Linked DNA regions of Homo sapiens: region 2 is linked to region 1. Evidence: fine-mapped expression QTL. A gene starts in region 1. The other region holds a variant in brackets. All regions are shown on one strand. Distances are from middle to middle. Region 1 holds the start of CNOT10 (CCR4-NOT transcription complex subunit 10). Region 2 overlaps CNOT10 (CCR4-NOT transcription complex subunit 10).

Region 1 (15,650 bases):
GTGCCTCTGAGGAACCCCAGTAATATGGCCAAAGTGGGGAGTATGGAGACATGAAGCCAGAGGTCACAGCCAGATTGTGAAGGCCCTTAAAAGTCCTTGTAGGTCGGGCACAGTGGTTCACACCTATAATCCCAGCAATTTGGGAGCCCAAGCCGGGTGGATCACCTGATATTAGGAGTTCGAGACCAGCCTGAGCACCATGGGGAAACCCTGTCTCTATTAAAAGTACAAAAAAATAGCCAGATGTGGTGGCGGGCACCCGTAATCCCAGCTACTCCAGAGGCTGAGGCAGGAGAATCACTTGAACCGGGAGTTGGAAGTTACAGTGAGCTAAGATCTCGCCATTGCACTCCACCCTGGGCAAGAGCAAAACTCCATCTCAAAAAAAAAAAAGGCCTTTTAAGGAGTTTGGACTTGGTACTAAGAGCATTGAATTGTCTTAAATGGGTGTGGATATAATCCAATTCATATTTCTAAAAATCTTTGGCTAAATGGAAGGATTCTGGAGGAAAACAGACCAGATGAAAAGGTTGAAGTGGCGCTAGTCTCAGTTGGGATTTAGGCTTAGGAATGGAGTAGCAGTGAGAATGGGAAGATCCAGCCTATTTAAGAAGTAGAATGCACAGACCTTGGTTGGTTGAACTAGATGGGGAAATGAATTAGTAGATGTTTCAGTTACCTGTTGCTGCACAACAAAGCATCTTCAAACTCAGCAGTTTAAAAGAATAACATGGGCCAGGCGCGGTGGCTCACGCCTGTAATCCCAGCACTTTGGGAGGCCGAGGCAGGCAGATCACGAGGTCAAGAGATTGAGACCATCCTGGCCAACATAGTGAAACCCCGTCTCCACTAAAAATACAAAAAATAAGCCGGCCGTGGTGGCGGGCGCCTGTAGTCCCAGCTACTTGGGAGGCTGAGGCAGGAGAATCACTTGAACCCAGGAGGCAGAGGTTGCAGTGAGCCTAAATGGGTCACTTAGAAAATTGATGTTTGGGCCAGGCGCAGTGGCTCACGCCTGTAATCCCAGCACTTTGGGAGGCCAAGGCGGGTGGATCACCTGAGGTCAAGAGTTTGAGACCAACGTGGCCAACATAGTGAAACCCCGTCTGTACTAAAAATACAAAAAATTAGCTGGACTTGGTGGTGGGCGCCTGTAATCCCAGCTACTTGGGAGGCTGAGGCAGGAGAATCACTTGAACCCAGGAGGCGTAGGTTGCAGTGAGCCGAGATTGAGCCAGTCCACTCCGGCCTGGGTGACAATAGTGAAACTTTGTCTCAAAAAAAAAAAAAAAGTTCATGGAAAAATAGAATTAAAAAGATAAACTTCATTTCTTAACATAAACTTCATTGAGTTCAAGACACTTATAAATGATGATACCAGATCACTTGAGGTAAGGAGTTTGAGACTAGCTTGGGCAACTTGGTGAAACCCTCTCTCTACTAAAAATACAAAAATTAGCCCAGTGTGGTGGCGCACGCCTGCAATCTCAGCTACTCAGGAGGCTGAGGCATGAGAATGGCTTGAACCTGGAAAGTGGAGGTTGCAGTGAGCTGAGATCATGCCCCTGCACTCCAGCCTGGGCAACAGAGGGAGACTCCATTAAAAAAAAAAAAATCTTAAAGGGCACCCATTTTATTCAGCTAACAATGAAAAAAAGACATGCATTGACATGGTTAAATCCCCAGGCCCCTCAGTTCTTTAGTGATCTGCCTGCCTTAGCCTTAAGGTTAGAAAAAAAAAAGTCAGAAGAAGCCAAATCATGACTGTAAGGTGGATGCCTAATGATTTCCCACTGAAACTCTCAAAAAATTGCCCTGGTTTGATGAGAGGAATGAACAGGAGCATTGTTGTGGTGGAGAAAGTCTCTCTAGTAAAGCTTTCCTGTGTGGTTTTGTTTCTTTTCTTTTCAGTTTTTTTGTTTTTTGTTTTGTTTTGTTTTGGGACAGAGTCTCACTCTGTCGCCAGGCTGGAGTGCAGTGGTGTGATCTTGGCTCACTGCAATCTCTGCCGCCCTAGTTCAAGTGATTCTCCTGCCTCAACCTCCCAAGTAGCTGGGACTACAGGCACATGCCACCACACCCAGCTAATTTTTGTATTTTTTAGTAGAGACAGAGTTTCACCATGTTGGCCAGGATGGTCTTGCTCTCTTGACCTCGTGATCTGCCCACCTCAGCCTCCCAAAGTGGTGGGATTACAGGCGTGAGCCACCGCACCCGGAATTCTTTTCTTTTTTTCCTAAAACTTTGGCTAACTTTCTTAAAACACTCTCATAATAAGCAGATGTTATTATTCTTTGGCCCTCCAGAAAGTCAACAAGCAAAATGAGTTGAACATCCCCAGTAACTGTTGCCACGATCTTTGATCTTGATTGGTGTGCTTTTGCTTTGACTGGACCCCTCCAACCTCTTGGTAGTCATTGCTTTGATTATGCTTTGTCTACAAAATTGTACTGGTAAAGCCATGTTTCATCTTCTGTTACAATTCCTAGAAGAAATGCTTAAGAATTTTGATCCCATTTGTTTAAAATTTCCATTGAAACCTTTGCTTGTCTACAGTTGATCAGGGTGCAACTGTTTGAGTAACTATTTAATGGAAATTTTGCTCAACTTTAATTTTTTAGTCAGACTTGTGTAAGCTGAACCAATTGAGATGTCTATGGTATTGGCTATTTTTTCTGCTGTTAATCGTCTGTCTTACTCAATTAGGGCACAAACCAAGATAGATTTTTTTCCTTGAAAATTGATGTGGATGATCTGCCACTTTGCACTTTGTCTTCAACATTGTCTCATCCCTTCTTTTTTTTTTTTTTTTTTTTTTGAGATGGAATCTCACTGTGTCACCCAGGCTGGAGTTCAGTGGCACGATCTTGGCTCACTGCGGCTTCACCTCCTGGGTTCAAGTAATCCCCCTGCCTCAGCCTCCTGAGTAGCTAAGACTACAGGCACGCCCCACCACGCCTGGCTAATTTTTGTATTTTTTCAGTAGAGTCAAGGTTTCATCATTTTAGCCAGGCTGGTCTTGAACTCCTGACCTCAAGTGATCCACCCACCTCGGCCTCCCAAAGTGTTGGAATTACAGGCATGAGCCACTGCACCTGGCCATCTCATCCCTTCTTAAAACGAGTTATGCATTTGTAAACTACTGATTTGCGGGGGGCATTCTCTTTATAAACCTTTTATAAAGGATAAATTATTTCACCATTCTTCCATCCAAGCTTTACCAGAAATGTGGTGTTTGTTCTTGCTTCAATTTTAGCAGAATTCATATTGCTCTGAAAGGGGCTCTTTTCAAACTGATGTCTTATCTTTCTTAGTGCCTCAAACTGGATCCTATTTTGACATGTTATAATAAGTTAGTATGAATTTATTTTGGTGCAAAAAGAGTTTGAAATTCATGCATAGTTTTTTCATAATACATATTTTCCATGAACTTTTTGAAGACTCCACATATACAATACATGATTATTATTATTATTGAGACAGGATATTGCTTTGTTGTCCAGGCTGGAGTGCAACCTCCAACTCCTAGGCTCAAGCAATCCTCCCACCTCAGCCTCCTGAGTAGCTGGGACGACAGGTGCCTGCCACCACACCTGGCAAATTTTTGTATTTTTTGTAGAGACAGGGTTTCGCTATGTTTCCCAGGCTGGTCTCAAACACCTAGGCTCAAGTGATCCACCTGCATCAGCTTCCCAAAGTGCTGAGATTACAGGTGTGAATCACCACACCCAACCTTACAATACATTATTATTAACTATAGTCACCATGCTATACATTGGGTTCGACTCCACCTCCTGATGGATGGGAGGAGCAGCATGTGCGTATTGGGATGGTAAGAGTTGTCAACCAAGAAGCTAGATGTAAAAGGTCACATATTGTATGATTCTCTGGAGGCAGTCTTCCACAAGCAGTAAGAATCACATATAGGCCAGGCACTGTGGCTAACACCTATAATCCCAACATTTTGGGAGGCCGAGGTGGGTGTATCCCTTGAGTCCAGGAGTTTGAGAACAGCCTGGGAAAAATGGCAAAACCCGGTCTCTACCAAAAATACAAAAAATTAGGCCAGGCGAGGTGGCTCACGCCTGTAATCCCAGCGCTTTGAGAGGCTGAGGCGGGTGGTTCACCTGATGTCAGGAGTTCGAGACCAGCCTGGCCAATGTGGTGAACTAAAAAAAGAAAAATTAGCCAAGCACGGTGGCTTGCGCCTGTAATCCCAGCTACTTGGGAGGCTGAGGCAGGAAGATTGCTTGAACCCGGGAGGTGGAGGTTGCAGTGAGCCAAGATCGCATCACTGCACTCTAGCCTGGTTGACAAGAGAGAAATTCCATCTCAAAATAAATAAATAAATAAATAAATAATAATAAAAATAAAAATAACAAAAATATAAAAAATTAGTCAGGTGTGGTGGCGTGCACCTGTAGTCCCAGCTACTTGGGAGGCTAAGGTGGGAGAATCACCTGAAACTGGGAGTTAGAGGCTGGAGTGAGCCATGATTATACCACTGCACTGCAGCCTGGGTAACAGAGTGAAACCTGTCTCAAAACACAGACACAAACAAACAAACCACATACAGTCTAAAGTACTGTGAATGGATAGTGGTATCATTATTAGCTGGAGGTAAAGTGACTCACCGTAGTTTATGACGGAGCAAAATCCTACTGAGCTTTTCCACCTCCCCACTCCTGAATTAGTTATCCATCATTGATGTCAGCCTGATTGTGAAAAAAGGGAGAGCTGCTGATACGGAAAGTAGAGGGAAGAGAGCCCAAATATCTTCAATATAATAGCAAATCCTAGAATCTAGAATGTAGTGGTTAAGATAATAGCCATTTACCAGTCTTGTGGCTTGGGAAAGTGGATTAACATCTGTGCCTCAGTTTCCCTATCTATGAAATGGGGGACAAGAACCAACATAGATGTGACCACATGTGAGAAAGTGAAAAGGGGACTAAGAAAATTAAAAAAAAAAAAACAGTTCTGTTAGTAGAATGTTCCCAACTGGACATAAACAGCACTCACAGAATATGAACAATGTTCATAGACAGTTTCACCATGATCGTGTTTTGGACAAGACAGAAACAAGGCCCTCAACAACCACACAAATGGGAAAACACCCCCTTCTTCTAATGTAAATGATCCCGCTTTTTTTTTAACCAATGACAGCTCTAGCTTGCTTTGTTCCTCCTTCTGTTTAGATAAAACCAAGACTGAATTGCTTGTTTCCTGACAGCATCCAATTCAAATTTGGCCTCCTACTTTCCCAATCCCTCTAGAATAAGCCCAAATTCTATAAGAGATTCCTCCTAATTCCTTTTCATTAAGAGGCTCCCTACTACACTTCAGGTGTGCCTTTTTATTATTTTTTATTCTTTATTTTATTTATTTATTTATTTATTTTTGAGATAGACTTTTGCTCTTGTTGGCCAGGCTGCAGTGCAATGGCACGACCTCGGCTCACTGCAACCTCTGCCTCCCGGGTTCAAACAATTCTCCTGCCTCAGCCTGCCAAGTAGCTGGGATTACAGGCACCCGCCACAACGCCCGGCTAATTTTTGTATTTTTTTTTAGTAGAGACGGGGTTTCACCATGTTGGCCAGGCTGATCTCAAACTCCTGATCTCAGGTAATCTGCCTGCCTCGGCCTCCCAAAGTGCTGGGATTACAGGCATTAGCCACCGTGCCCGGCCAGGTATGCCTTTGCCCAGCCAGGTATGCCTTTTTATGGTGGGCACATATTCATCAAAAGTCATACTAGAGTAATCATATTGGCCCTATTCAAAATAGATAAAATATCCAAATGCCCAACAATAAAATGAATACATAAATTAAGGAATATTCACATAATGTAACATTATAATATATAACAATGAGAAACAAATACAACTTCATTCAACAATGTCAATGAATCTCATACTATCGAGCAAAAGAAGCTAGACCCTAAAAAATATATTGTATAATGTATATACATTAAGTTTAAAAGCAGGTGAAGCTAATCCATAGTGTTAAATGTCAGCATAATGATTATCTTTGTGGAGAGATGGGAAGAGGCATGAGGGGAACTCCCAGATATGGGTAAAGCTCTGCCCTTTCTCTGGGTGCTAGTTATATGTATGTGTTGAGTTGATGAAAAGTCAATACACTGTACTTATGATTCATGCACTTTTCTTTGTGTATGTTAGCCTGAATTAAAAAGTTTAAGAAAAAACAAATACTTTTTTTTTTTTTTGAGACAGAGTCTCACTCTGTTGCCCAGGCTGGAGTGCAGTGGGGCAATCTTGGCTCACTGCAATCTCCGCCTCCCGGATTCAAGGGATTCTCCTGCCTGAGCCTCCCAAGTAGCTGGGATTACAGGTGCACACCACCACGCCCAGCTAATTTTTGTATTTTTAGTAGAGACGGGGTTTCACCATGTTGGCCAGGCTGGTCACAAACTCCTGACCTCAAGTGATCCACTTGCCTTGGCCTCCCAAAGTGCTGGGATTGCAGGTGTGAGCCACCACGCCCGGCCAAAAACAAATACTTTTTTAAAAGAAAGTTTAAAACAAAAGTTAAAAAAAAAGAAAAAAACAGGTACAAACCTGAAAAATCTCCCAATTAACAAAGCTGGGACAATTTTAGCAACAAAATAATGTAGTATTGGAATGTAACCATTATAAGATAAACATCCATGAGTCCATACTGATATAAATAGCTAAGTGAGGGAGAAGAGGCAAACTTCCCTTGGGGAAGATAATTTATGTACATACTCCCCACTGCAGGAGGTAGAGCTTAAATACCCCGCCTTCCCACCTTGAGTGTGGGTTGCATTTATTGACTTGGTTCCAAAGTAGTGTGGAAGGGTAGGAGGAGTAATTGCACAGTAGAGAAAACTGGCAAGCACTACCTTAGAGAGGTAATCAAGGTTAACATGATCAGTGATGTCATTTTGACAGCATGTACCCTTGATTCTATGTGATGAGAACAGCCAGTCACCTTGTGGTCTTCCTCCTAAACACCCAAAACCCCAGTCTAACCATGAGAAAAATATTGGCCAAACCCAAATTGAGGCACATTCCACCAAATATCTGAGGAGTAACTCTTCAAAACTGTCAAGGTCATCAAAAACAAGAAGAATCTGAGAAACTGCCACAGCCAAAAATAGCCTAAGACGACATAATGAATAAATGCAATATGGTGTCCTGGACAGGATCCTGGAACAACAACAAAAAAAGGACATTGAAAGAAAGCTGGTAAATGTGAATAAAATGTGTAGTTTAGTGAGTAATAGTGCGCCAATCAAACTGGTTTCTTAGATGTGATCAACGTAACATAGTAAAATAATTAAGATGTTCACAATAGGAGAAACTAGGTGAGGAGACAGGAACTCTAGGTGTCATCTTTGCAACTTTTCTGCACAACTACAACTATTCTAAAATAAAAGGCGTTTCTTTTTAAACGGGAATCCTCAACAGCGCCTCTCTCATGGGGTTGCAAGAAATCAATGAGATAGTACAGACCAAGTGCAGGGCTCAGTGCTTAGCACATAAATGTCAGATGTGGTTATTGTAATATTATGTAACATTGAGGGACAAAAGCTCTGACACCTCGGTGTTTTAATTAGAGTAAGCAAAGGACAGACGCGCGTACGTCCCACCGCGTCAGCCCTGTGAACATCCAGAGGTTCCAGCCAGAGTACGTCCGGCCGGAGGCGGGGCGCGGAGGGGACGTCGGCGTGGGGCGGGGCCAGTAGCAGTTCCCACGCCGGCGCTCCAGGCGCGGCAGGCTGCCGCCCCCGGAAGTAGTGGGTACCGGGACGCCGTGAGGCGGAAGCTGTGTATGGCGGGAGGCTGTGGCGGTCCCTTGGTGGGGAAGCTGTTGCTGTTGCTAGACGACGGGAACTAGCTCTCGTCACTTCCTCAGCCCGCCGTCTGCCCACTCCTCTAGCCGGAACCTGGGGGCCCGGAGCCGGGGTAGGCACAGAGTTGTCCTCGGAGGTCCAGGACAGCGGCCAGCCCGGCGGCGGGAGTCAGGGCCACGCCACCTGCAGGGAAGAACCCGAGTCGAAGCGGGAAGATGGCTGCAGACAAGCCTGCAGGTAGGGCGCCAATGTCCCGAGCGACGAGACGGCGGGACGTGCGGGGCCGGGCGGACCCTGAACTCGGAGGCGGCGGGGCCCGGGGTGGGGACTCCAGGGCGACTTGAATTTGGGCGTGCATTTCTTTACCCCATCCTCTGTCTCGGCTGTCGCTAACATGAGTCTTCGGGCCCCGGGTCCAATAGTTGTTTTACTCAAGTGCAGTATTTGAAGTCGCCACTGGCCGCCTTTGCCCTGCTCTTCAGAATAACTCCGGCCCAAAAAGCTTAAATGTATTTTGCCGCTTCGCAGAATTTTCCGCTTCTTCGTGGGAAAAGCAGACAAGAGAAAGTCACCCTGGAGCACACATCTGCCTATAATATCGCGTGGCTGAGGCTGGGATTCACCTGGGCTGTTTTGACCACATGTGGCTTCCTCTGGTCATTGACTCCTGTGAAATTAACTTTGTAAAAACCACTTTTTTTTTTCTTGATAGAGACGGGCGGGGGTCTCGCTATGGTGCCCAGGCTGATCTCGAACTTCTGGGCCCAAGCGATCCTTCCGCCTTGGCCTCTCAAAGTAAACCACTTATTTAAAAAGGCATAAAATCCTATTGTCTCTCTACAGTCTGTGCTCCTAAAATCTTGCATTTGGTACTTAATTGCTCTAGTTCCTCGAAATTACTTAATCTCAATGGTTTTCTTTATGGATTATTGCTCCCATTCCTAGAATCTTCCACATTAAGGAATATAAAATTATTTCCTGACCTTGTCCGGAATGTTTCCCGCAAGAAATTCATATTCTTTGTGGCATCCAGGTTTTATTGGAAAGAACTTAAGTGACAGGATTTAAAAGTGATGGAACTTAAAATTTTTACAGTGAATTTAATTTAAAATTAAAGAAAAACTCAGTGTGCTGTGGATTTTAGTAGGTTCTGGTCACAATAACTGACAAATGAACTTCACTTGGAAATTAAGCCAATTCTATTTTAGGTACAGAGGAATAAAAATCATTAGAGGATCTCTTCAATAATCTAAGAAGAAAAACAACAGAACAAAGGCCTTGAGAGGGTATAAGGAATGTGCTGTGAAATTTTGGATAGGTTGTTCAGGGAAGGCCTCTGGTGAGATGATATTTGAGCAGAGATATGTAAGAAGTGAGGGAATGAGCCATAAGAAATGAGGAAAGGTGGATGAGGGAGAGACTATTAGACAGGAAAACGGCATGGCCTGTCCAAGGCTGGACCAGGGGACCAACATCTTCCTCCTTATTTTAGAATAGTGTCTGTGTTCCCCACATTTACCATTCCTACTTGCTCATACCATTGCGCTTGCCCGAAATCACCCTTTTAGACCTAAAGCCCATCCAGTTTTCAAATCCTCAGTCATAAAGCCTTCTACTTGTTCATTTATTCATTCGCAAAGATTGAGTGTTGAATAATGGATATGACACACTCCCTGCCTTTGAAGACCTGCTGTTCAGTCTGTTGGAGGAGACAGGCATATCCTAGCTGCACTCCTGTTTGGTAAGAGCTGTGTAATGTGTGTAGTTGAAGAATAAGGTCCACAGTGATTAGGGGACTGTTTTTTTCATTGGTTTAAGTTTATAGGCCATATTGAAGGAAACTTCCTGCTTTGATATAAGGTTAAATTTGAATAAAATAGATGAGTGTTTAGTGTAGCTCCTTTGAATCTCTGCTCATCTCCATCTCATCTGCTGTGTTTCTGGCCTTTATCTTTTAATATGATCTATGTCGCATTGAGTAGTCTTCTCACTGGTGTTTGTCTCTTGTCTCTTCCTATCCCATCCATTTTCCTCACTGTCGCCCCCCGCTTTTTTTATGTCCTAAGACATTCATTGAATCCTGTCATTCCCCTTCCTATAAAGTTTCTAAGACTGTACATGCTTTGGGCATCAAGTCATCATTCTTTTTATTTAATTTTTATTGTATTTTCTTTCTCCTTTTAAGTCCTCACGGTTTTTTTTTTTTGTTTTTTTTTTTTTTTTTGAGACGGAGTCTCGCTCTGTCACCCAGGCTGGAGTGCAGTGGTGCGATATCGGCTCATTGCAAGCTCCGCCTCCCGGGTTCACGCCATTCTCCTGCCTCAGCCACCCGAGTAGCTGGGACTACAGGCGCCCGCCACCACGCCCTGCTAATTTTTTTGTATTTTTTAGTAGAGACAGGGTTTCACCATGTTAGCCAGGATGGTCTCCATTTCCTGACCTTGTGATCCGCCTGCCTCGCCCTCCCAAAGTGCTGGGATTACAGGCGTGAGCCACCGCGCCCTGCCGTCCTCACTCTAATGTGGTTTGTGAGCATCTTCAAAATCTATTTCCAGCTGGATTTCTGTATCAACCCACCCAGCTCTTCACATCATAAATTACTGTTGCAAAGCATTGTGTTTTTTGAGCTTTTGAGCCGTAGTGTCCTTTCTCTTCTCCGTCTGGTGAACACTATTCATTCAGTCTATCTTACATGCTGCTTCCTCTCTGAGCTCACGAGGTCAGGATATTTGTCACGGAGGGTCTTGTGTGTGTGTTCTTCATCAGGTAAGAAAAAAGGGTCATGAAAGGACTTAAGGTGAGTGATCTGATCACACTGACTGTTGTAGGTGGTGGATTTAAATGAAGTAAGACAGGAAGCCTAGAGACCACCTAAGATGAGTTAATGTTGTGATATTAATTTATTCAGTAAATATTCACCAATGGCCTGTTTTGCCAGGTACTACTTTAGGAACTGGGCAGGAACAAAACAAAGTCTCTGTTCTGGAGCTTATTTACTATGAAGGACAGATAAGCATGTAAATAAAATGAAAAATAAGATGATTTCAAGTTGTGATAGATACTCTGAAGAAGGCCAAGTGCAGTGGCTCACACCTGTAATCCCAGCATTTTGGGAGGCTGAGGGGGGTGGATCACCTGAGGTCAGGAGTTCAAAACCAGCCTGACCAACATGGTGAAACCCCATCTACTAAAAATACAAAAATTAGCCAGGCATGCTGGCGCACACCTGTAATCCCAGCTAGCTGGGAGGCTGAGGCAGGAGAATTGCTTGAACCTGGGAGGCAGAGGTTGCAGCAACCCGAGATCGCACCACTGCACTCCAGGCTGGGTGACAGAGTGAGATTCCATCTCAAAAAAAAAAATAATACTCAGAAGAAAAAAATGAGTAAGAGAGGCTGTCTGCAGTTGCTCACACCTGTAATCCTAGCACTTTGGGTGGCTGAAGTGGGAGGATTGCCTGAGGCCAGGAGTTTGAGACCAGCCTGGGCAGCATAAGTGAAACCCTGACTCTAAAAAATAAAAAGCCAGATATCATGGTGTGTGCCTATAGTCTCAGCTCCTAGGGAGGCTGAGGTGGGAGGATTGCTTGTACCTAGGAGTTCAAGGCTGCAGTGAGCTTTGATCACGCCACTGTCCAGGCAACAGGATGAGACCCTCTCTCAAAAAAATAAAATAAAAGGCCGGACGTGGTGGCTCACGCCTGTAATCCCAGCACTTTGGGAGGCCGAGGTGGCAGATCACGAGGTCAAGAGATCGAGACCATCCTGGCTAACACAGTGATACCCCGTCTCTACTAAAAATACAAAAAAATTAGCAGGGCCTGCTGGCGGGTGCCTGTGGCTCCCACCTGTAATCCCAGGACTTTGGGAGGCCGAGGTGAGTGGATCACCTGAGGACAGGAGTTTGAGACCAGGCTGGCCAACATGTTGAAACCCTGTCTTGACTAAAAATACAAAAATTAGCTGGTCGTGGTGGCAGACGCCTGTATTCCCAGCTACTCGGGAGGCTGAAGCAAGAGAATCACTTGAACCCAGGTGGCAGAGGTTGCAGTGAGCCAAGATCGTGCCATTGCCCTCCAGCCTGGGCAACAAGAGCAAAACACCATCTCAAAAAAAAAAAAAAAGAAAAAGAAAAAAAAGAATAGAGGATGACTGAAAGCCTTGTTTTTCAGATAGATTAGAGAAGGGCTTTCTTAGAGTTGACATTTAGACAGAAACCCTAAGGATAAAGAGCCAGCTGTGTTGGGAAGAATGATCCAGGTAAGAGGAGCAACAAATATGCAAATGTACAGAACCCTTGCTTGGAAAATGTCTAAAGAACATCAAGCAGACCCCTTGAATACAAGCTCCCCGAAGATAGAGACTTTTGTCTGTGTTAGTTGTGTTCTAGCTCTAGTCCCTAGAACAATATCTGACAAGAGACACTCAACACATAATTTAAGGCTGGGCATAGATGCTCACACCTGTGGGAGGCTGAGGTGGGAGAATCGCTTGAGGCCAGGAGTTCAAGACCAGCCTAGGCGACATAGCCAGACTTGTCTCCGTAAAAAATAAAAAAAAATTAGCTAGGCATGGTGGCGTGACCCTGAAGTCCTAGCTACTCCAGAGTCTGAGATGAGAGGATGGCTTGAGCCCAGGAGTTGAAGGTTGCAGTGAGCTATAATTGTGCCACTGTACTGTAGCCTGGGTGACAGTGCGACCCTGTCTCAAACAGAAAACAAAAAAGCCAATACACATAATTTATAGCATAGGGAGCAAAGGCAGCATGGCAAGAGATAAAGTCACAGTTGTATCAGGAGTTGGTGTATGTTGGGCGTTACAGGCCATGGAGGGAGTTTGAATTCATTTTAACTAATGGGAAGAGAGTGGAAGTTTTCAATAAGGGCATGATGGTGTGATCTGATTTATATTTAACTGATCCAGGTAAGGAATGATAAGAGTAGGGGCTTTGAAATCAGATAGTTTAGGTTCATCCTAGCTGTACTACTTGGTATTTGTGGGAAATTGGGCAAATTTCAAGAAGTCTTTTTTTTAAGCTTCAGCTTTCCTGCGTGTAGAATGAGAACGATGAAAGTATCTACCTCACAGGTATGGTAACAGGTTAAATGATATAATCTCAGGCTCTGAGTTTTTTGGTTTTTTTGTTTTGTTTTGTTTTGAGACAGGGTCTCACTCTTTCACCCATGTTGGTGTGCAGTGGCACCATCATAGCTCACTGCAGCCATGAACTCCTGGGCTTAAGCAATCCTCTTGCCTTAGCCTCTTGAGTAGTTAGGACTACGGGTGTGTACTACTGTATCCAGATAATTTTTTTTTTTTTGAGACAGAGTCTCGCTCTGTTGCCCAGGCTGGAGTGCAGTGGTGCGATCTTGGCTCACTGCAAGCTCCGCCTCCCGGGTTCACACCATTCTCCTGCCTCAGCCTCCCAAGTGGCTAGGACTACAGGTGCATGCCACCATGCCCGGCTAGTTTTTTTGTATTTTTAGTAGAGAAGGGGTTTCACCATGTTGGCCAGGCTGGTCTCTAACTCCTGACCTCATGATCCGCCCGCCTCGGCCTCCCAAAGTGCTGGGATTACAGGCATGAGCCACCGCGCCCAGACTTATTTGGTATTTTTTCAACTTTTTATTATGAATGATTTCAAACACCTAAAAAATTTAAAAAATAAAATGAATATCTATATATCTACCCCCTAGTTCATTCAGCAATTGTTATATTTTACCATATTTGCTTCCTCTATCACTAGCTATGACTTTTTTTTTTTTTTTTGAGATGGAGTCTCACTCTGTTGCCCAGGCTGGACTGCAGTGGTACGATCTTTGCTCATTGCAACCTCCATCTCCCGAGTTCAAGCGATTCTCTTGCCTCAGCCTCCCGAGTAGCTGGGCTTGCAGGCACACGCTACCACAGCCAGCTTTTTTTTTTTTTTTTTTTTGAGATGGAATCTCACTCTGTTGCCCAGGCTGGAGTGCAGTGGTGCAATCTCGGCTCAGTGCAACCTCTGTCTCCTGGGTTCAAGTGATTCTCCTGCCTCAGCCTCCTGTGTAGCTGGGACTACAGGTGTGTGCCACCATGCCTGGCTAATTTTTTGTATTTTTAGTAGAGACGGGGTTTCACTGTGTTAGCCAGGATGGTCTCGATCTTCTGACCTCATGATCCACCCACCTCGACCTCCCAAAGTGCTGGGATTAACAGACGTGAGCCACTGTGCCTGGCCATGCCCAGCTAACTTTTGTATTTTTAGTAGAGACGTGGTTTGACCATGTTGGCCCGGCTGGTCTTGAACTCCTGAGCTTAAGTGATCTGCCCGCCTCGGCCTCCCAAAGTGCCGATGTGAGCCAACACACCTGGCTCTAGCTATGACTTTTAATGTTGAATCATTTCAAAATAGGTTATAAACATCATAACACTTCATCTCTAAATATTTCAACATGCGTTTCTTAAAAATAGGGACATTCACCTATGTAACCATGATGCCATTGTCATAGTTTAGACAATTCATGTTTTAATATATTAAAAATTTCCTGCCAGCCAGGCATGGCGCCTCACGCCTGTAATCCCAGCACTTTGGGAGTCTGAGGTGGGAGGATCAGTTGAGTTCAGGAGTTAGAGACCAGCGTAGGTAACATGGTGAAACCCTGTCTCTACCAAAAATGTAAAAAATTAGTGGTGGCGCATGCCTGTAGTCCCACCTACAAGGGAGGGTGAGGTGGGAGGATCATTTGAGCCTGGGAGGCAGAGGTTGCAGTGAGCCAAGATAAACACCACTGCACTCCAACCTGGGTGACTGAGTGAGACCCTGTCACCAAAAAAAAAAAAAAAAAGCCAATTTCCCGCCAGGCATGGTGGTTCATACCTATAAATCCTAGCACTTTGGGAGGCCGAGGTGGGTGGATTGCTTGAACCTAGGAGTTCAAGTCCAGCCTGGGCACCATGGTAAAACCCTGTCTCTACAAAAAATACAGAAAGTTAGCTGGGTGTGGTGGCATGTGCCTGTAGTCCCAGCTATGGCTATATTTTAAAAATTTATTTGTAGGCACAGGGTCCCAATATATTGCCCAGGCTGGTCTCAAACTCTTGGGCTGAAGGAATCCTCCCAGCTTGGTCTCTCAAAGTGCTGGGATTACAGGTGTAAGCCACTGCACCCAGCTTTATCTCCTGTATTTTCTTAAACTCTAACTTATTTCTACAGGCTTGATTAGATATAGGTTCAACATATTTTTGAGAAACTTTGTAGGTGATGTTATATACTTTATTTTCTGTATAAAGTACATAATGTCAGGTTATCCAGTATTAGTGATGCTAAATTTGATCAATTTGAGGTGCTGACAGGAACATCTTTTTCCATTTTCAGTTAGAGGTAATTTATGGAGTAATTGGCATTTCGTAAATATCCACTGTTGTTGATTCTTTCCTCAATCAGTTGTATTATTGAGGGTTACAAAATGATTTTTACCTAGTTCTATTGTAGTTTCTACCTTTGTTAGTGAATATTCTTCTTTAAAGAGTAGCTCTCCTGGGCTGGGTACAGTGACTCATGCCTGTAATCCCAGCACTTTGGGAGGCCAAGGTAGGCAGATCGCTTGAGCCCAGGAGTTCAAGAGCAGCCTGGGCAACATGAGAGCCTGTCTCTACGAAAAGATTGAAAAAACTTAGTTGGTGTGCTGCTGCGTGCCTGTAGTCCCAGCTACTTGGGAGGCTGAGGTAGGAGGTCACTGGAGCCCAGGAAGTCGAAGCTACAGTGAGCCGTGATCACAGCACCGCACTCTAGCCTGGGCTACAAAGTGAGACCCTGTCTCAGAAACAACAACA
Region 2 (15,650 bases), 88 kb after region 1:
AAGATGGAAAACTGTCTAAAAGATCACTTATATAAATAATAGTGCATCTGTACAGTTGAAGACAATGCAGCTATAAACTCTAGGTACTAAAATGGAAAGATGTCCAAGACATACTAAATGAAAACAGCAAGGTGTGAAACAGTTTCTGTATAACCCTGTATACATGCATAAAAGATCTCTGAAAGGACACACCAAGAAACTGCAAACATTAGTTGTTGGGGTGGCAGGACGAATACTACATGGCTGGAGCAGTAGAATGGGAGACTTTTCACTGTATACTGTTATGCTTTTAATTTTTTTTTTTTTTTTTTTGAGACGGAGTTTCGCTCTTGTTGCCCAGACTGGAGTGCAATGGCGCAATCTCGGCTCACTGCAACCTCCGCCTCCCGGGTTCAAACACTTCTCCTGCGTCAGCCTCCCAAGTAGCTGGGATTACAGGCATGTACCACCACGCCCGGCTAATTTTGTATTTTTAATAGAGACGGGGTTTCTCCATGTTGAGGCTGGTCTCGAACTCCTGGCCTCAGGTGATCCACCCGCCTCAGCCTCCCAAAGTGCTGGGATTACAGGTGTGAGCCACCGTGCCCAGGTGCTTTTAAATTTTGAATTGTGTAAATCTTTTTTCAAAATGTGAATTATAGGCCAGGCACGGTGGCTCATGCCTGTAATCCCAGCACTTTGGGAGGCCGAGGTGGGCGGATCATGAGGTCAGGAGATCAAGACCATCCTGGCTAACACGGTGAAACCCTGTCTCTACTAAAAATACAAAAAAATTAGCCAGGCGTGGTGGCATGTGCCTGTAGTCCCAGCTACTCGGGCGGCTGAGGCAGGAGAATGGCATGAACCCGGGAGGTGGAGCTTGCAGTGAGCCAAGATCGCGCCACTGCACTCCAGCCCGGGCAACAGAGCGGGACTCTGTCTCAAAAAAAAAAAAAAAAAGTGAATTATAAATCCACCTTTCAGAAAGCCAATACTAGAGAAACTCCATACACACTAAAGAAAGCTACTGGCAATATATAACTAAAATAAACCTCTGAATTCTACCACTGAAATGGTGCATCATGAAGCTTCAAGGAAGATTTTGATTGGATCTCTTTAGTAGGTCACCTGCCAATCCCTGGACCAATCATGGGCATTGAGCCATACCTGTAGTAGGGGACTGGGTACCACCATTGGCAGCCCCAGAGGAATCTCACAAAATTAGAAATAGTTCCTCAAAAGGACATTCATCCAGCAGATATCTGTTGAGCACTTACTTCTGAGCTAAGCCATGGGAATAAGACTGCACATAAGCAGACATACTACAATCTTGCCCTTGCTTGTAGACCTTTGCAGTTAGGAGACACCTTCCTAAAAAGGGAATTGCATGGTCAGAGGATATGCAGGATTTTAAGACTTCTGATATAGAAAGTTTGTATCAAATGGTACATTCTCCAGCAGCAGATGAGAAGGCCCACATCCCCACATGCTTGCCACAGCAACTAAAGTTGATATTAAACCTCTTCTCAGGAGATAGGGTGGCTTTCAGCCGGGCGCAGTGGCTCACACCTGTAATCCCAACACTTTGGGAGGCCGAGGCAGGCAGATCACCTGAGGTCAGGAGTTCGAGACCAGCCTTACCAACATGGAGAAATCCTATCTCTACTAAAAATGCAAAAAGTAGCTGGGCGTGGTAGCACATGCCTGTAACCCCAGATACTCGGGAGGCTGAGGCAGGATAATTGCTTGAACGCAGGAGGTGGAGGTTGTGGTGAGCCGAGATCGCGCCATTGCACTACAGCCTGGGCAACAAGAGCGAAACTCTGTCTCAAAAAAAAAAAAAAAAAAGCCTATGTGGCTTTCACATAGGTTCCTGCTTATGTGAGCAGCCTTGTTGTGCCTAGAAGTGATGATGCTTTACCATGTGAAAAATAACTACAAATTCTATTTAGTCAACTTAGTGGCATCTGGTCAGCATTTCTGATCCCAGATCAGAAAAGTTAAGTGACAGGCTGTCCAGGGTAACATGTTTGATATTATCTAGGCATTGAGTGTATGAGTTAAACCAGTAAGAGTTAAAATGTTTCACTCTTCTCAGTAACAAGGCTAGGGTGTTGAGCAGCCCCTCTCAAAGTGCCCCCAGACCTCAGTCACTGCAGCAAACAGAGCTTTTGATCTAAAGTTACAGTGTGTACAGTCCAGCTGAGGTTCTCGTACAGCAGGTGGCCATGGCTGCTGCCACGCTGGGAGAGACAGATGGGGTCAGGCCTGGTTTGGGGTCTGAAGGGGGTTTTGTTTTGGTCCCTTGGTTTTTAGGTTAATCCAATGGCTGGACCTTTGTTAATTGGGAGGCCCACCCTGCCTGGGAGGGAAGAACAGTGATGTGAAGAGTTGGAAAGGGCTCCGAGTAGATGTTTCCAAGGTTGCCTGCCCACCACTAACCATTCTGAACAGCCAGTAAGCAAAATGCCATTAAGTATCATAAAGATGTTGCCTTGAATTCTTGTATTTTAAAAAAAGCTTCAGACTGTGGTCATTGAAAAAAACAGTAAATAAAATGTGTTACTAGCCACTTGGATGGAAAACAGAGATTTTACTATCCACAAAATGGGCCGGGCACAGTGGCTCACATCTGTAATCCCAGCACTTTGGGAGGCCAAGGCGGGTGGATCATCTGAGGTGAGGAGTTCAAGACTAGCCTGGACAACATGATGAAACCCCGTCTATACTAAAAATACAAGAAATTAGCTGGGCGTGGTGGCAGGAGCCTGTAATCCCAGCTACTTGGGAGGCTGAGGCAGAAGAATCGCTTGAACCCAGGAGGCGGAGGTTGCAGTGAGCCTAGATCGTGCAATTGCACTCCAGCCTGGGCAACAAGAGCAAAACTCCGTCTCAAAAAAAAAAAATCCACAAAATGGTATAAAGACGATCTTGCCTATACAGCTTGCCTAGAAAGCTAGGCTTAGATATATAAAATCTCATTTTCTGAAAAGAGTTGTTATACCTCAGTGTTGTGGCGAGAGGAATAAAAGCCTCCCCACCTCATTCATGAGGAACTTCTTAGAAGCACATGCTCTGGGCAACATGCCCCGCTAGTCTGAGATTTCTCCTAATGCTGCCAGAAACCAACCTAGTACACGTTTCTGGTCTTCCCCAACATCTCCCACGTTCAAGCTGCTACCTTCAGTACCATTTCTCCCCATTTTCTACCTGTGAGATATCTACCCTGCAAGGACTAAAGCAGGCCTCCCTTACCCCAAAGCTCTGTTTGAAAGAAACTTCTTCCTTTCTCTCCATATTCACAGCACATTCACTGCCTTTCTCCCTGGCATTTACGTAACTGTGTTTGGATTATTGTTAGTTATTTGCATGCTTGTTTGTTATCAGGGGAAGTCCCTGTCTTATCTCCATACCCACCTCTGTTCAATAAGTATTTGTAGAAGTCTATTATCTGATTAGATTAAGAGAAGAGGCAGAGCTGTCTGGAAGCAATGAGCAACTAAAACTAGATGGGGAAGTACAAGTTGATAATAAGGTGAGGAATATTTTGGCTGTAGCTCAAAGAGGCCCAGACTGAGGAAATAAACCTGTAATTTCAGCACTTCTGTCCAGAGCAGTCCAGGCTTCCTTCTTCAGGACTGGATCAGAGAGAAACTGCTGGCCGATGCTATGGCTCTTACTCAGATCTAAGGGCAGCATGTTGCCTAAACTAGTAAATTATTTTATTGGACTAAATTGAAGTGTGTTTCAGTCCTTAAGAATGGAGACCTCAAACATGCTACGTGGTACGTTTTTTCTGTATTACTATAAGTTTGAATTATTATTCCTGACATTGACAACTTACAGTTTGTAATACTGAAGTGTTACTTAGGAAAACAAATGGGCATGCAGATTTTGATGTAATTGCAACTGTATGTGTCTGTTGTGAAAGCCACCAGCAGAATTGGATGGTTGACTGTAGTATCGGGGTGTCCAGTCACCCATCTCAAAACCCAGAGTATTACATGTCTAGCTTAATTGTTAGGTTTTAAGACAAAAGGAACTGAGGCTCATCAGAGCAGAACAACAGGTAGTCCCTAGGAAGTCACGTGGGAATGAGCTTGAATAAGTTTGTTACCTTGTTGGTTGGCAGATGTACTTGGAGTGTGTATCTTAAGCTTTTGTTTTTTCACGGGCATCTTTCTGTTTTGAGCAAAGGCGGCTTCAATGATCCATCCTAAAGAGGTGCCCCCTGAGGCCATCTTGCTGGCAGTCTACCTTGAACTGCAGAATGGTGAGTAATTCTCTCTGTTTAGGACTTTATCCCTTGAAAGAGCCTGAGATTTTTTGGTTGGGAGACAGGGTCTCACTGTGTTGCCCAGGCTGGAGTGCAGTGGTACCATCAGAGCTCACTGCAGCCTCCAAACTCCTAGGCTCAAGCAGCCTTCCCACCTCAGCCTTCCAGGTAGCTGGGACTACAGGTGCACGCCACTGAGCCCAACTAATTTTTTAAATTTTTTTTAGAGATGTGGTCTCGCTTTGTTGCCCAGGCTGCTCTCAAACTCATGGGCTCAAGCAGTCCTCCCATCTTACCCTCCCTAGTAGCTGGGATGACAAGCATAAGCCACCATGCTCAGCCAAGGCTGAGATTTTTTTTTTTTTTTTTTTTTTTTTTGAGACAGAGTCTTGCTCTGTAGCCCAGGCTGGAGTGCAGTGGCGCGATCTCGGCTCACTGCAAGTTCCGCCTCCCGGGTTCATGCCATTCTCCTGCCTCAGCCTCCTGAGTAGCTAGGACTACAGGCGCCCGCCACCACGCCCACCTAATTTTGTGTATTTTTAGTAGAGACAGGGTTTCACCGTGTTGGCCACGATGGTCTCGATCTCCTGACCTCATGATCTGCCCACCTCGGCCTCCCAAAGTGCTTGGATTACAGGCGTGAGCCACCGCACCCGGCAAGGCTGAGATTTTTAATGTCTGTTTTTTCTCTTCAGAGTCAGAAATTTGCCTTCCTTGAAGATAGGTGACCCATCAAATTCTTTTTTTTTTTTCTTTTTTGAGATGGAGTCTCGCTCTGTCACCCAGGCTGGAGTGCAGTGGCACTATCTCAGCTCACTGCAACCTCCGCCTCCCGGGTTCAAGGTTCAAGAGATTCTCCTGTCTCAGCCTCTCAAGTAGCTGGGATTACAGGCACCCACCAACATGCCTGGTTAATTTTTGTATTTTTAGTAGAGACCGGGTTCACCACGTTGGCCAAGCTGGTCTTGAACTTCTGACCTCAGGTGATCTGCCTGCCTCGGCCTCTTAAAGTGCTGGGATTATAGGCGTGAGCCAGAGCGACGACCCATCAAATTCTTCTACATAAAAATATAGTTAGGAGCTGGGCGCAGTGGCACATGCCTATAATCCCAGCACTTTGGGAGGCTGAGGTGGGCTGATCACCAGAGTTCAGGAGTTCAAGACCAGCCTGGGCAACATGGCAAAACCCCATCTCTACAAAAAATACAAAAATTAGCTGGGTGTGGTGGTGTGCGCCTGTAGTTCCAGCTACTGGGAAGGCTGAGATTGGAGGATCACTTGAGCCCTGGAGGTTGAGGCTGCAGTGAACTGAGATCATGCCAGAATAAGACCTTGTCTAAAAAAATAATAATAGGCCGGGCACAGTGGCTCACGCCTATAATCCCAGCACTTTGGGAGGCCGACACGGGTGGATCATTTGAGGTCAGGAGTTCGAAACCAGCCTAGCCAACATGGTAAAACCCCATCTTTACTGAAAATACAAAAATTAGCCAGGCGTGGTGGCGCATGCCTGTAATCCAGGTACTTAGGAGGCTGAAGCAGGAGAATCGCTTGAGCCTGGGAGGTGGGAGGTTGCAGTGAGCCGAGACACACCACTGCACTCCAATCTGGGCGACAGAGTGAAACCCTGTCTCAAATAATAATAATAATAAATACCTATATCTATCTAGATAGATAGATAGATAAATAGATAAATTGATAGATATAGTTAGGGAGTTTTTGGTATCCTACAAATACTCCTTACAAGTTAAGCTTATCTCCTTTTATCTGAGAAAATACAGAATCATAACTTCAGACACTTAATTATAATTAATCACTATTAATTAACCTTTCTCCTAGGCAGCTAAATGACTGAGAACATGAGTTAGAATGCAGTTGCTTTGAGTTATACACCATAGTATTTTGAACACATATTAACAAGTTTTACAGTAAGCCAGTTCTTGCTGAGAATTATTTATTCAAACATAAATTCAGGTCATGCCTCTAGGGCATATACGATCTCCAAGATGTATCTCACTAGAAGAAAGGCTGTTGGCTCTAAATATGAGATAGCATGAAGTAGAAAAGAGACATGAATGAGAGAGATTAGAAGGGACAGAAATAGGCCAGGTGCGGTGGCTCATGCATGTAATCCCAACACTTTGGGAGGCCGAGGCGGGCAGATCATGAGGTCAGGAGATCGAGACCATCCTGGCTAACATGGTGAAACCCTGTCTCTACTAAAAATACACAAAATTAGCTGGGCGTGTTGGCATACAGTTGTAGTTCCAGCTACTCAGCAGGCTGAGGCAGGAGAATTGCTTGAATCCGGAGGCGGAGGTTGCACTGAGCCGAGATCGTGCCACTGCACTCCAGTCTGAACGACAGAGCGAGACTCCGTCTCAAAAAAAAAAAGGGACATAAATGAAGTCACAGCCAAGCATGGAGTCCTAGCTACTCTGGAGGCTGAGGCGGGAGGATTGCTTAAGGCCAAGAGTTCAAGGCTATAGTGTGCAGTATTGCTCCTGTGAACAGTCACTGCACTCCAGCCTGGGCAATATAGTGAGACCCTGTCTCTTTTTTAAAAAATAAAAAATTTTAAAAAGGCTGGGCACAGTAGCTCATGCCCGTAATCCCAGCTACTCTGGAGGCTGAGGCAGGAGAATTGCTTGAATCTGGGAGATGGAGGTTGCAGTGAGCCGTAATCGCCCCACTGCACTCTAGCCTGGGCCACAGAACAAGACTCTGTCTCAAAAAAAACCCAATGTTCTAAGGCATAACTCCTTGTTGACCTTGGGAACTCTTACAAGGCTCCCTTTTTTTTAATAGCTGAAGAAGGGGTCTTTAGTGCCTGGCACCCAGCGGGCCTTAGCCTCCTTAAAGATGTGATTAGGGTTAGTGCATTGCCCTAGATTGTTTCATTGTTTTTTGTTTGTCTTGAGACAGGGTCTCACTTTGTCACCCAGGCTGGAATGTAGTGGCGTGATCTTGGCTCACTGCAGCCTTGACCTCCCAGGTTCAAGCAGCCCTCCTGCCTCAGCCCCCCAAGTAGCTGGGACTACAGGCATGCACCACCATGCCCAGCTAATTTTTGTATTTTTTTGTAGAGACGGGGTTTCACCATGGTACCCAAGCTGGTCTCGAACTCCTGAGCTCAGGCGATCTGCCCACCTTGGCCTCCCAAAGTACTAGGGTTACAGGCATGAACCAACCCTCCCAGATGATTGTTTCTTTTATACAGCCCACCTATAACAAGTTCTCTACCTGGGCTATACCTTAGAATCACTGGGAAGCTTTTTAAAATTCCATTGCCTGGGCCATGCCCTACATCGCTTAAATCAGAATTTCTGGGGATAAGATGGAGGCTTTATGGGATTCCAGTATACAGCCAAGGCTGCAGATGACAGCTCTTCTAGATCATCTTTTACCTCCCCAGCAGGATTTTCATGTCTTGCTTTGTGTGTGGCAGTATTGTTCTGTGCTTTGTTTTTTAACGGGAAGTGTTTTTATAGGTAATACTCAGCTGGCCTTACAGATCATCAAAAGGAATCAGCTGCTCCCTGCAGTGAAAACACACTCTGAAGTGAGAAAGAAGCCAGTGTTTCAGCCTGTCCACCCGATCCAGCCCATCCAAATGCCGGCTTTCACCACTGTGCAGAGAAAGTGATACTTCACTTTTGGAAAACTGTTACCTGAGACCCAGGGGAGAATTTACTGGCCATTTTAGTTGTATCACAGCAGAATGAATAAAAGATGGTGAAGGCTGTTAATTTTGAGTCA[A/G]TTCTACCCCTGACATTTGGCCAAAAGCTTACTTAAAATTAAGGATTTACTAAGTCATCATCAGCTGTTTTTCTTAATTTCAGCCAGACTATTAATTTTGAGCCATTATGTAATATATGCCATAGGCAATTAAAACATAATTTTATCAGAAGTCTTTTACACTTTTATTGACTATTAGATTATTTTAGCATCTGAGGTTTTGTGTTAACGTTCAAAAATTGACAAAGAACATCAGCAGTAGATGAAATAGCCAGTTCAGAAGCTGACCTGGGGGTGAAGGGGAGGGAAAGAGAGTTGACGTGTTTTATGTCTAGTTATGACTGAAAAGACCAGAAAATGTGTTGAGAAAGTAGGTTAAGAAGATACAACTGGGCCAGGCACAGTGGCTCATCCCTATAATCCCAGCACTTTGGGAGGCTGAGGTGGGCAGATCACTTGAGGTCAGGAGTTTGAGACCAGCCTGGCCAACATGGTGAAACCCCGTCTCTACTAAAAATACAAAAATTAGCCAAGCATGGTGGCACACACCTGTAGTCCCAGCTACTCAGGAGGCTGAGGCAGGAGAATCGCTTGAACCTAGGAGGTCGAGGTTGCGGTTAGCCGAGATTGCACCATTGCACTCCAGCCTGGGCGACAGAACAAGACTGCCTCAAAAAAGAAGACACAACTGATCTGTTAGGAATCATTTGCTTAAAAAGTGCAAATACAACAGGGTTCAGTGTACTGGCCTTGTTCACTCTCCTAGGTTCTGGAGTCTGCTGGCAGGCAGTTCAAGGTTCATTACTAACCCTTTTGCAAATGCAAACAAGAATTTAATAGCTTCTTCCCAAGAGACAGTTATGTGTTGTGGGATTGACGTTGACAAAATTTGCCAATAGGATGTATATACACTAACATTAAGTAGGGGGAAAAAACAATACAAGTGGGTGCAGTGGCTCACATCTGTAATCCCAATGTTTTGGGAGACCAAGGCGGGAGGATCACTTGAGGAGTTCAAGACCAGCCTGAGCAACATAGCAAGACTCTGTCTCTGAAACATTTTTAAAAGCTGGACATGGTGGCCCATGCCAGTAGTCCTAACTATTCTGGAGGCTGAGGTGGGAGGATTGTTTGAGCCTAGGAATTCAAGACTGCAGTGAGCTATGATGGCACCACTGCACTCCAGCCTAAGTGACAGAGTGAGACCCTGTCTCAAACAAACAAAAGACAATGTGGATTTGCTCTAGTAAATTGGGTGTCCCCCTAGTTAAGATGGTGTTTGGTAGATTCATCAAAGCTTGCCATTTAGGAATATCCCTTAACGTCACAATGCTTCACTTCCCTAGTTTGGAGACACATTAGCTGAATCTACATGTTACCTCAGTTTCAGAACTAGAGAGACAAGTGTGTGGATAAGTACTGATTTATCTGAAACTTTATCTGAATTATTCTTTTTTTTTTTCCTTTGAGACGGAGTCTTGCTCTGTCTCCCAGGCTGGAGTGCAGTGGCACAATCTCGGCTCACTGCAACCTCTGCCTCCTGAGTTCAAGTGATTCTCCTGCCTCACCCTCCTGAGTAGCTGGGATTTCAGGTGCCCGCCACCACGCCTGGCTAATTGTTGTATTTTTAGTGGAGATGGGGTTTCACCATGTTGGTCAGGCTGGTCTGGAACTCCTGACCTTGTGATCCACCCGCCTCAGCCTCCCAAAGTGCTAGGATTACAGGTGTGAGCCACTGCACCTGGCCGTTTTTTTTTTTTTGAGACGGAGTTTTGCTCTTGTTGCCCAGGCTGAAGTACAATGGCACGATCTCGGCTCATCGCAACCTCCGCCTCCCAGATTCAAGTGATTCTCCTGCCTCAGCCTCCAGAGTAGCTGGGATTACAGGCATGCGCCACCATGTCTGGCTAATTTTGTATTTTTAGTAGAGATGGGGGTTTCTCCACGTTAGTCAGGCTGGTCTCGAACTCCGGACCTCAGGTGATCCGCCCGCCTCAGCCTCCCAACATGCTGGGATTACAGGCGTGAGCCATCGAGCCCAGCCTATCTGAATTATTCTGTTGCTGACAGGAAGCGGAACTCAGGTAATGATATATACTAGAACTGAATATTTGTGACTGAGATAGGCATTGCCAACAGACTCAAAGAAGGGGAGAATATCCTCCTCTTTTTAAACATGGATGGATGGATGTAGGGGCTCCATTGATCGAGTGCCACATTGTAGTTGTTTTGTACACAGAGTAGATTTTTACAGGTGGACACAGAAAGCAGAGATAGCCTAGCTTCCTTGGACCTCTTGAAGCCCCTTCTAAGTAGGACCATAGGACCCGTAATCTGCACTGCTGTTGGTTTAAGTCTGCCGTCTCTGCTTTCCCATACTCCAGACCGACAGCAGTACTGTGAGACCCACTCAAATGAGCAGAATTGCTTTGCCTGGGAATTTTCTGGAGAGTGAGTCCACAGACTTCATAAATCGCTAGGAACTCACATAGTCATGGTAGTATGAAGGGGAAAAGCCCTATAATTGTACTTCAAAAAAACACATCTTTAGAGAAATCAAGAAATTAGAACTTTCTCTGCATGCTGGTTTGTTTATGGGAAAGCAGGCAATACCTAGTAAGGGTAGGGCAGGTCCTATATTAAATAAGACTATATTTGGCTGCAAGTAGCAAAAAATAGGTCTGTGACTTAAAGATTATTTTTCTCTCACTTGAGAAGGGGATATGAAGGCAGCTGCTGGCCTGGGTTCTAGTGTCCCGTGATGCCATCCAGGACTCAGCTCTGTTTTTCCATGCCACTGTCCTCAGCATTTGGGCATTTGTTTCCATAGTCACAAGATATTCCAGTATCACATCAACATTGAAGGCAAGAAAAACAGGGCAAAAACTAGCTAATCTTGATGGGAGACTATCTGGAACAAAACTTTCTTAGAAACCTCAGCAGCCTTGAGCTTAACATCTCTTTTGTCACATCATGTCATGGAGCCATCCTAAGCTGCAGGGAAGCCTGGCAAAGATGTCATAACCATGCCTGCTGCAGTTGCTGGCATAGCCCTGCACATCCTAAGGGAGGCCAATTCAGTGTTTTTCAGATTAATGTTCCAGCAGCTCAGCTTTTCCTTCCACTGCCTACTGTCAGCAGAGCCCAGCAAATTAAATATAAGTTCTTCACCTCTGTGTCTGGACTCATACTGGTTCCCATAGCCAGGAAGGCTTCTTCCCACCTATTTTTCCTGCCCCATTTTGTTAAAGCCACCTCTGCTAACTGAGGTAACTCTGTCAGAGGGGTTTGAACCAGAGCAACTCCATCTTAAATGGGAGCTGGGTAAAATAAGGCTGAAAGCTACTGGGCTGCATTCCCATGTGGTTAAGGCTTAAGGCATTCTAAGTCACAGGATGAGATAGGGCAGCACAAGATACAGGTCATAAAGACCTTGCTGATAAAACAGGTTGCAGTAAAGAAGCCAGCTAAGACCCACCAAAACCAAGATGGTGATGAGAGTGACATCCTCACTGCTACACTCCCACCAGCGCCATAACAGTTTACAAATGCCATGGCAACATTGGGAAGTTACTCTATATGGTCTAAAAAGGGGAAACATGAATAATCCACCCATTGTTTAGCACATCATCAAGAAATAACCATAAAAATGGGCAACCAGCAGCTCTCAGGGCTGTTCTGCCTGTGTAGTAGCCATTCTTTATTCCTTTACTTTCTTAATAAACTTGCTTTCACTTTACAGACTTACGCTGAAGTCTTTCTGAATTCTCTTGGAGTCTAGATCGGGACCCCTTTCTAGTAACAACCCTATCTATACAAAAAGGCTTTTGGCCATGTTTGGTGGTTTACGCCTGTCATCCCAGCACTCTGGGAGGCCAAGGCGGGTGGATCATTTGAAGTCAGGAGTTCGAGACCAACCTGGCTAATATGGCGAAATCCCCGTCTCTACTAAAATATAAAAATTAACTGGGCGTGGTGGCGGGTGCCTGTAATCCCAGCTACTCGGGAGGCTGAGGCAGGAGAAGCACTTGAACCTGGTAGATGGAGGTTCCAGTGAGCCAGGATCGTGCCACTACACTCCAGCCTGGGTGACAGGGCAAGACTCTTGTCTAAAAAAAAAAAAAAAAAAGGATTTAAATGTCACTTACTAAAGTTTTTCCTGGTTGTTCCCAGTTTCTTCCCCCTTTGTATCTTCCCTGGTAAATACAGTTTCTTCTATGGTATATGGTTTTCTGGAATTTAGCAGATATGAGAACCATAGGCATCAGTCTCAAAATATGGCAACTTATTTGCTGGGGTTTACGTTTTTAGGTTTTTGGGTTTTGTTGTTGTTGTTGTTCTATGGTCTTGCTTTGTTGCCCAGGCAAATGTTGCAGTGGCTCTATCAAGGCTCAGTGCAACCTGGACCTCCTGGGCTCAAGTGGTCCTCCCACCTCAGTCTCCCGAGTAGCTGGGACTACAGGCAAGAGCCACCATGCCCAGTTTTGTATTTTTTGTAGAAGCGGGTTTTCGCTATGTTGCCCAGGCTGATCTCAAACTCCTGAGCTCAAGCTATCCACCTGCCTCAGCCCCCCAAAGTGCTGGGATTACAGGCATCAGCCACCGTGCCTGGCCTTTGCTGGGGTTTTGAATTCTGAGAGCCATTAGGTCTATTGAAGCTCTACCACTCATTCAGCTGCATCATCTACAATACGGGACAAAATCGACCTCATGAATTTCTTCATGGACCCAGGAGGATGTTGTTGCAAGTGTCTCCCAAACCACATGGCATGAACCCTCAGAACAGCTGTAGTAGTCTTCCCTTGTGCCCTCCGGCCCTTAACAGCCTCCTGCAGAGCTCTGTTAAAGCCATGCCCTTGACTGGAACACAGGCCAGCAACCTTGCATGGCCTTGCCCAATGCACTGCCATCTGCCTGCATGTGGAAACTATGCACCCTCCGCCTCCTCTTTCATATCAGAGTGTCACCTCTCATAGTCCCTTTCTGACTAGTTTTCTGACAGCTCTGCCCTTACTCAATCTAAGTGACTTTGAGCAAATGACTTCATCTCTCTTGAGGTTTTTTGACCAGTTTGTAAAATGCTTTTCTTCAGGGCCTAGTGTGAGGATTAAAATGAGATGATGCATGCAAAGTGTGCCTGGTGGACACTTAATACAGGTGAGTTCACTTATCCCTCTTGTTACCGAAAGGGCCTGCTCAGCCCAGTCTCCCTCTGTACTTCCTTCATCTCAGTGCTACCTCTGAGTCTCTCTCATTCCTCCCTGTTCTTGGAAGCCACCTGGAGAAAAGTGACTGATGACATCATGGACCCTCTAGCCCGACTGGCTTCAAATCTTGGTTCTCTCTCTGGAACAATTTTGATATGAAACAAGTTGCTTTGCTTCTTTGTGCCTGAGTTTCTTCATCTGTAAAATGGGGATACTAATTCATAGGATTAGAATGATGTTTAAGGGTGCGGCCATTGTACCATTGCTGAATGTGCCTTGAACTCCCAAATGTTTGAAAGGGAACACCATAATTTTCACTGTATCATGTAAAAGTGATATCAAAGCAAAGATTATATAACAGCACTGAGGCTGGACAGTGGGGAATGGAGGGGGACTCCTTGAGATAAATTACCACCTCCTTCACTTTTTTTCTGAGACGGAGTCTCACTATGTTGTCCAGGCTGGCCTCAGACTCCTGGGTTCAAATGATCTTCCCACCTCAGTTTCCCTAGTAGCTGGGACTACAAGTGCAAACCACTGCACCCAGTCCTCCTTCACTTTTGATTTGCTCAACACCTAGTGGCATCCTGTGTTCTCATCCTATTCTTTCCTGCCTTGCCCAGGACCTCATCTTGTGATGACAAGAGGTACCCGGTCTCCTTGCCTCAGATTCCTTCTCCCACCCTTTCTTCCTCACCACAGCCTGTAACTTCCTATAGCACAGCTCTGGCTCCTGCCTAGGGGTTGCTTCAGGGATACCTGAAGGTCTCTTTCTGCCCTTCCTACTTAGCCTTTTTCTTTTTTTAAAGCAGAGACAATGTCTCACTATGTTGCCCAGGCTGGTCTCAAACTCGTGGCCTCAAGTGATCCTCCCACCTCCCAAAGTGCTGGAATTACAGGCATGAGCCACCACACCCAGTTTAGCTACTATTAATCCCTCCCTTATGCCCCATTTGTTCCACCACTGGATTCTCTGCCATCCCCTAAAAGGAGTCACCATTTCCTACCCTCAGAGCTTTGCTTCAGTCTCTTCTGCTGCCTAAAATTTTCTCCCTTCCAGTTTTAATGTGTCAACATCCTGGGCATCCCACACTGCCTCTCCATAGCCCTATCCTCCTCCAAGGGATTTCCTCTTATGCCCCCACTCTTCATTTCACACATGCTTACTGAGGGCATGCTCTGGTCCCAGAAGCTTTTTTGTTTCAGCCCCATAGTAACTAGGCAAATCTGCAAGCGCATGTCTTTCATGACGTGTTCTTTGTTGACCATTTTCTTTCCCCTACTGGATTGTAAGTACCTTTGAAGACAGGCTGTGCATTATACAGTGTGTGGATTGTTCTAGGTGAACAATAAAGCCTGCTAAACAGAATTTTTGGTGACATGTCCTTTCTAGGCCTGGCAACGACACCCAGGGCCTACTTCTTTCAAGGTGGTGAAGGCCTATTAACATAAGCCCAAGATTCACAGGGCCTCAGCATCCTTGACCTCTGCGCCTTTATGGAGTGAGAGTTAAATAGTAGCCCGGGACGGGTGGGTTAGTTACTGGTCAAAGTCAATCCTCCAAGTCAACTTGGCCTGGACTAAAGTAACCAAACCCATGCAGAAAACTTGCAATTTAAAAATTCATCTTCCCTTTCTTCCTAGAAAGGACTGGGCAGAAATGCAGGCTCCAGGGTGGGAGTGGGGCTGCGACGGGAGGAGGCAGCGAAGTTCATTAGCCCCCTCATTTGGGGCAATAGGAATCCGTGTGGTGACAAACAATTGTCCTGGAGGATTTAGGGGGATTTGGCCAAGTGTCCCTGTGGGCCCCCAGCCTCCTCCTAATCCCGTCCACATTTCAGACTACTTAGGATCGCATTAAATGTCAAAGCCGGCGTTTAGGGAAATATCTACATTTCGTATGCATCGCTCGGATGAAAAGAAAAGCTGAAACGAACCTCGGAGCTTTTGGCGCGAGAGGCGCTCTGTGTGGTCCCGAGTGTGAATGGGAAGAGGGGGGCGGCGCCCCGGGGGCCTCCCCGCCCAGGAATGCAGGCCTTTCACATGTAGAAAATGCTAATGCTTTGTTCCTGCCTCGGCCTCCCGGAGGCGCAGAGGCGCCCGGCCGGATTGTCCCGGCGCATTTGCATGTGAGCGGCCCCAGATCCCCGTCCCCACCCTCGGCCCTCCCCCACCCCAGCACGGCTGGCCGGGGACTTCTGTCCTCGGGCCGGGGCCGCCTTCAAACGTCCTCTGCCGTCATTTATTTCATCCCGGTTAAAGCCACAAATAGCTACTTTCTGAATGGATAGCCTTTCCCCTGGGGAGCCGGGCAGGTGAACATTTTTTACTCCATACTTGAGACACTTGACAAAGAGAGTTGTATCTGGAACAACCTCTGTTCCAGCGAGGAAGGGCACGGCGTTGGCTGAGCCATGCCCCACTACAGCGTCACATTTATGTCCTGTGGC

Evidence for each region. PIP is the estimated chance that this variant, and not a neighbour inherited with it, causes the effect.
Region 2: its variant is fine-mapped to the expression of CNOT10 in whole blood (TOPMed, PIP 0.93).

Annotation. Positions count from the first base shown.
Region 1 is chr3:32,677,407-32,693,056 of GRCh38, forward strand. It overlaps CNOT10 (CCR4-NOT transcription complex subunit 10), which reads left to right and starts at 7,782. Exons shown (of 19, transcript NM_015442.3): 1 at 7,782-8,076. The coding sequence starts at 8,055. RefSeq lists a silencer at 7,583-7,892.
Region 2 is chr3:32,765,711-32,781,360 of GRCh38, forward strand. CNOT10 (CCR4-NOT transcription complex subunit 10) reads left to right here. Exons shown (of 19, transcript NM_015442.3): 18 at 4,177-4,252; 19 at 7,747-8,165. The coding sequence ends at 7,901. Among named protein-coding and RNA genes, the nearest start is that of CNOT10-AS1, 36 kb to the left of the region's middle. RefSeq lists a silencer at 8,587-8,881 and enhancers at 14,144-14,864, 14,865-15,586, 15,571-15,650, 15,587-15,650. The variant A/G (reference allele first, on the strand shown) is at 8,015.